Regions from separate parts of the Homo sapiens genome. Here region 1 is linked to region 2. Evidence: fine-mapped expression QTL. A gene starts in region 2. The other region holds a variant in brackets. All regions are shown on one strand. Distances are from middle to middle. Region 1 overlaps LOC124901260 (a long non-coding RNA gene). Region 2 holds the start of EDN1 (endothelin 1).

Region 1 (2,919 bases), 36 kb after region 2:
TAGGGGGCGGGGGGTCTTTTGTTTGTTTTGCGGTTTTGTTTTGTTTGACAAGATCTCACTCTGTTGCCCACGCTGGAGCGCAGTGGTGCAATCATAGCTCACTGTAGCCTCGGCCTCCTGGGCTCAAGCAATCCTCCCGCCTCAGCCTCCCAAGTAGCTGGGACTGTAGACGTGCACCACCATGTCTGGCTATTTATTTTATTTTATTTTTCTGTAGAGATGGGACTCTCGCTTTGTTGCCTAAGCTGGTCTCAAACTCCTGAGCTAAAATGATCCTCCTGCCTTGGGCTCTCAAAATGCTGGGATTACAAGCGTGAGCTACTGCACTGGCCAAGCCGTCTTGTTTCCTGTGCCAGCTTTTTAGAGGAGTTACAGTGGGTTACAGTGGTTCCTAAGCACCTTATCCAGGATGAATAAGAAAAGTTGAAACTAGAAGCAGATCCCTCTTTATTGTGTACCTTGTAACAACCTGGCTTATTTGTGAGACATTCCAACATATCTTTAGAGAGATTTACTGTCCTCTTTAAAGTTATTTAGCAAACACACTCTCTCTCAATATTTGTTTTAGACTAAGTCATAAGAAATAGCTGATATTCAATTGTTTTGACCTATAAAAATGAAGATGTTATAGGGCTTAGACTATTGGTCTGTCAGTTAATATTGGAACTCCCAATCATTAATGATTACATGTGATGGTAACCTAAATAGTCACATGATCCTTGACTAGGAACTATCTCAGGGACGCTAGAAAGCCAGTTGAAGCAGACATTTGTCTCTTCAGACTTCCACAGCCAAAATCAAAGCAAAAACACATTGGCAGACTTTGGTCAAATACAAGCACAAACTGATGTTCAGAGCATTCTTATAAATAGTCATGGTGATATTAGACTTCCTGGTCTTGTTCCTGCTTTTAATGAGAGAGAGTACCTCTACTCTTTAGCCATCAGATATCACTGACAATTTGAATAAATGCCATTTGTGTTTAAGTTTTCTAAGAATTGTTATTCCAAATGGCATTGAAATGACTTTATGAGCTTTATAATTTTTTTCTTTTTAGATCCATTGATGTAGTATGCTAACCTATTTCTCTCTGATTGAGCTATTCTTGAATTCCAGGAATAACCCTACTTGGATGTGGTGGATAATTTATGAAGGTGCTATTGTTTTGAAATTGTAATTCTTTTAAGGATTTCTGCAGTTGTATTCAAAAATAAGATTACTATTCAATTCAAGAGTTTTGTGTTTGTTATTTATTTGGCTTTTTGAAACAGAATCATTTCATCTTCATAAAATGAATTTGATAATTTCTTTCATCTTGTTTTATCCCACGGAACAATTT[A/G]TCTGAAAGAAATTACCTGCTTCTTGAAAATGTGAAAGCTGTAAAGTTGCCCAGGTTAGTATCCATTTTTTGAAGTAATTATTGAGTACTTTTTCAAATTCTTTCTGAGTTACTGGAGATTTCAGATTTCTTAATTATTAAGACAATTTTGATCATTTATGTTTAGATAGGAAATTTGCCATTTTAAAAATTATTCTAAATCATAAGCATAATTTGTAATATCCTTGATATCTGTTGTCCTTTCTCATAAATTTCTCATAAATTTTTCAATTGAGTGCATACAACTTCTCTTGATTATATATAAAATGCTACAGATTTATGCACTTTATTATGTGCATGTTTTCTTTCAAAGAAATACAATTTTTCTACTTTCTGATTTATTTTCTTTTAATCTTGGTCAAATCCTTCTGATGATTTCTTTTGGCTTATTTTTCTCTTTTCCAAATTCTTAGGTTGCATTCTTACTTCTTTTTAAATAATATTTCTCATTTAATATTAAAACCCCTTCTGGATAGATCTTTGTCCTGGGGATATGGTCCACAGCTTTATGGGGTTTACAATCTGGTGTGGACTCCAGACATATCAACAGGCTGTTATAATCAAGTGGAAAGGTACTATGATAGGGGAAGTTCAAGGTTCTATTGGAACACTCAGAATAGGAACTCGACCAGATTTGGCAGAGTGGAGAGTGAGGAAAGGTTTACAAGGAGAAGTGGTGTCTAAACTCAATAGGAATTGGCCAGGCAAAGGGAGACGGAAGAAGAGCGGGTACCAGGCAGAGGGAAACACCCTCAAGGTGAGAAAGCGGCTGACCCAGTATTTGGGAATTGCAAATGCTCACGTGGCTGGATATAAAAAGCAACAAATGAGATACCAGCCTGGAGAGATAATCAACAGTTAAACTACAGAGGGTGACATTAAGGAGTTCTGGACAATGGGATGCCAAAGGTGTTTTACACAGAATAATGTTATAATCAGATGGGTAGACTGAAAGATAGTTTGGAGCTCCCCATGGATAGTAGATTTGATGAAAACAAGCAGGAGGCAAGGGAACCAGTTAGAGGGTTGAGGTAGAAGGCCAGGTAAGAGATGATGGTGTTCTAAATGAGCAAAATGTCAGAAAGCACAAAGGGAAGGAGATGGATTGAGATGTATTTAGGAGGTAGAAAAACAAAACGTCACGGGCGGTAGATTGGGTGTGCGCAGGGACAGAGGAGTAAAGAATGATGCCCAGGTTTTTGGCCTGGCTTTGGGGGCAGTAGGACAATACCCTCACTTAGAGAGGCAAGAGCAGAAACTGAGTCAGATGAAGAATAAGAAGATGGACTTTGAATGTGTTGACTTTTATTATTAGTAGTAGTAGTATGAGTTATTCTTTTTGTCCTATTTAATGCTGTTCCCTTTGACTTCTATTTTGTCTAAGCAATAATTTTTCTACCCTACATTTTGTGTGTGCACATGTGTGTGTAAATTCCTGGAAATTAAAGTCTTTTCTTCCTCTTCTACATAAGCTAAAATATTTATCCCTTTTTCACTCACTTTTTCTATCCTTTTATATCCATATGCTAGTTTTTGCTATT
Region 2 (2,919 bases):
CCTGTTGAAAATCCGGCTGGCTTCTACAAGGAACTTGGTAGGACAGCACTATCCACTGAAGCTTACTTAACATTGGCACATGACTAAAGACAAGAAATCACAGTTATTCCTAGCTTTGGGGCCACTTCCCCATTCAGGATGACCCTCTCTTTAGGGGGTACCCATCCACTTCACATGCTGTGTAGGGCACAGGGTACCCCAGATGATGTATATCTTTCAAAATTAGGTGGGGAAAATGATTGGAGAGAGAAATTAACTATTCAATATTCAATTCAGGAGGGTAACTCCATAGAAACCAGTGACCTAAGGTGGGGCTGAGAAGCAGGTCAGGGGACTGAAGGTAGGCTGGGGGGATTTTGAATTCCGAATCCCTGGGCATCAGGCTTGTGTGGGATCCACTGCCTCCCCCTTCTCCACTACTGCCTTGCCTCTTCCTCCTAACAATTTAGCCATGCAGCTTATCTGCCCAATTTTGTACATTTCAAATGATCAGACACATTCCAGGATTTTCATTCCCTTGACATCCTTTCTCTTTAGTCAGGGTCACGAAAAGACAAAAAAAGTGCACTGACCCTAAAAACGGGGGGGACCCGGGCAGATGCACACGCACTGCCTAAATCCTTCGGCAGCCAAGAATTATCCTAGCTCCCCTCCCAGCACAGGTGAATAAAGCTGAAAAGAGAGCTCACACTGTTTTGGGTGCCAAAAACCTGCCAAAAGAAACCTAAAGTCAATGATGACAAATTTTAAAGAAAACATCTGCTTCACCCAGAAACCGCCTGCGGGGGGTGGTGGCGGGGGGGGGGGGAGGCGGTAGTTAGTCAACAGACTTTTGCTCTGCAGGTGATTTTACTGAACATACATTGCTTGAACGACTGGATACAATTCCTTGGCTTCAAGCTGGAATGCTTAAATATTTTACACGTTAACACACTATTAAAATAGTGTTTAAATAAGATTTAAGTTCCTATATGGCCTGTGTACCTGTATAAACACATATATTACAAACATACATTTGACTAAATTGTATATGTCCATACTCTTCTCATTTTTTAAAAGCCAAGGAAACACATAATGGAATAATAATAATAAAACGATAAGTTATTTTAATGTCATGTTATAGTCAATTGCACCTAATTGTATTCAATAGAGGAATTTTACATTTTACACTAGAAGACTTAAAGTAGCTTTCAGCAATAATTCTCAGACACTTGCTCTCTAAGCTGCAGTCATAAAAAGAACGGGGAAAAATAGAAGCAAGAAAAGCATGAAGGTGGATAAGAACACACTAACTTGTAATTCCGAGACTTACAAGTCAACGAGCGTGCCTACCTGTTTCTGGAGCTCCTTGGCAAGCCACAAACAGCAGAGAGAAAATCATGAGCAAATAATCCATTCTGAAAAAAAGGGATCAAAAACCTCCCGTTCAAACTGAACCCAAAGGAAAACGAAGAAAAACAGCTTCAGGTCCCTCAAAGCGCTGCGGGTTCCTCAGATCTCAAAGCGATCCTTCAGCCCAAGTGCCCTTTTAACGGGGAGAAAAGGCAGCGCCTGCCAGGAGAGAAGGCAGCGAGCGGAGCGTCTGCAGGCGCACGCGGCGGTGGAGAGCTGGGACTGCAGGAGGCGCAGGACCCGTTCGCCTGGCGCAGATGCAGAGGCGCGTCTGACTTGGACAGCTCTCTGCCGGCTTTTTATATTGAACCCCTATTAGAGTGGGGGTAAACAGCTCCGACTTTATTCCAGCCCCAGACAATGTTATTGTGTTATTAGTCACCAACAGGCAACGTGCAGCCGGAGATAAGGCCAGGCCCGAAAGGAAATCACTGCTAACTTCAGAGGCAGACGCCCGCCGTCTGACAATTCGGGGGCAGGGCTAAGAAAAAGAAAATACCCATTAGAGACCTTTGCTAAACCTGCCCGTGCAGTGCTGGAGTCCGCTTCCCCTTTGCAAGCTGCCAGCCCCGGAGTTCAAGAATCAGAAGAGGGGACTCCAGAAAAAAAGTCATACCATTGGTATGAAAAGTATGAGCCACAGTTTAAATAGATTGTATTGTTGTGTGCGGGGAATTTTTTTTAATTGTTGCTCGCTTCATTTTCCTTTTATGTCTCTCCGATTCTAGTCTCAGTCAAACAAGGGAATGCTCTCCCTCGTCACTGCCCCACTACTGGGGGTCAGACTATTTTGGCAGATCAACGTACTTTTCTCTTCAAGCCCCTTCCTGCGGGTCTTTTTTGCTGAAGTTCTTTGCATCTATCGGAGAAAGATCCGTGAGGGATTGGCAAGAAAGGGAGCTTAAAAATAACATCAGAGCTCGTTTAGGCACATGCCCAGTCTTTTCCCTATCACTGATGAGAAGCCCCGATAAGTTCTTTTGTGTGTCCACACTTCCCCTGCGGAGGAGGCTGATAAACTGATTGAAAAGCAAAGGTGTTTTTCACACAGAACTTAAATCTTAAGATTGGTCGGTGCCACCAATCTTAAGACATGGCGGGAGAAGAACACCAGGGGGAGATGAAGAGCTACAGGGGCTGATGTTTTACTAGGACAAAAAGGAAAACCCTTCTAAATGGCAGAAAAAAACGCAACCTGGCTTGGGGGCCGAGGAGGGTCAAGGAATGTTGCCTAACATAGGAAGGAGGAATGCACCTCAGAATATTCTATTTATTCCCCGCACAAGCAGGGACATATTTTCTGGGACTCTTTTTTTTGGGGGGGTGTCTTCATTTAGGGCAAAAAGGTGTTCTTGTACAAGGTTAAGTGAATATGCAAGGAAGGTGGTGCTGAGAAGGAAATGCCATTCGAACAAGGAATCAGATAATACTTCACATTTAATAATGTGTTTACATTTTCAAAACAATTTCCTGTCTATCTAACCTTGAAATCCCCCCCTGAAGTACACACAGGGCAGTTACTGTACA

What was found. PIP is the estimated chance that this variant, and not a neighbour inherited with it, causes the effect. A credible set is the group of variants that fine-mapping cannot tell apart.
Region 1: its variant is the best candidate, but not a certain one, in a credible set for the expression of EDN1 in whole blood (TOPMed, PIP 0.51).

The regions. Positions count from the first base shown.
Region 1 is chr6:12,253,478-12,256,396 of GRCh38, reverse strand. LOC124901260 (a long non-coding RNA gene) reads left to right here. Exons shown (of 3, transcript XR_007059454.1): 2 at 1,349-1,393. It also overlaps a transcript of EDN1 not described here. Among named protein-coding and RNA genes, the nearest start is that of EDN1, 35 kb to the left of the region's middle. The variant A/G (reference allele first, on the strand shown) is at 1,340.
Region 2 is chr6:12,289,107-12,292,025 of GRCh38, reverse strand. EDN1 (endothelin 1) reads right to left here and starts at 1,665. Exons shown (of 5, transcript NM_001955.5): 1 at 1,333-1,665. The coding sequence starts at 1,396. RefSeq lists enhancers at 1,733-1,802, 1,813-1,912.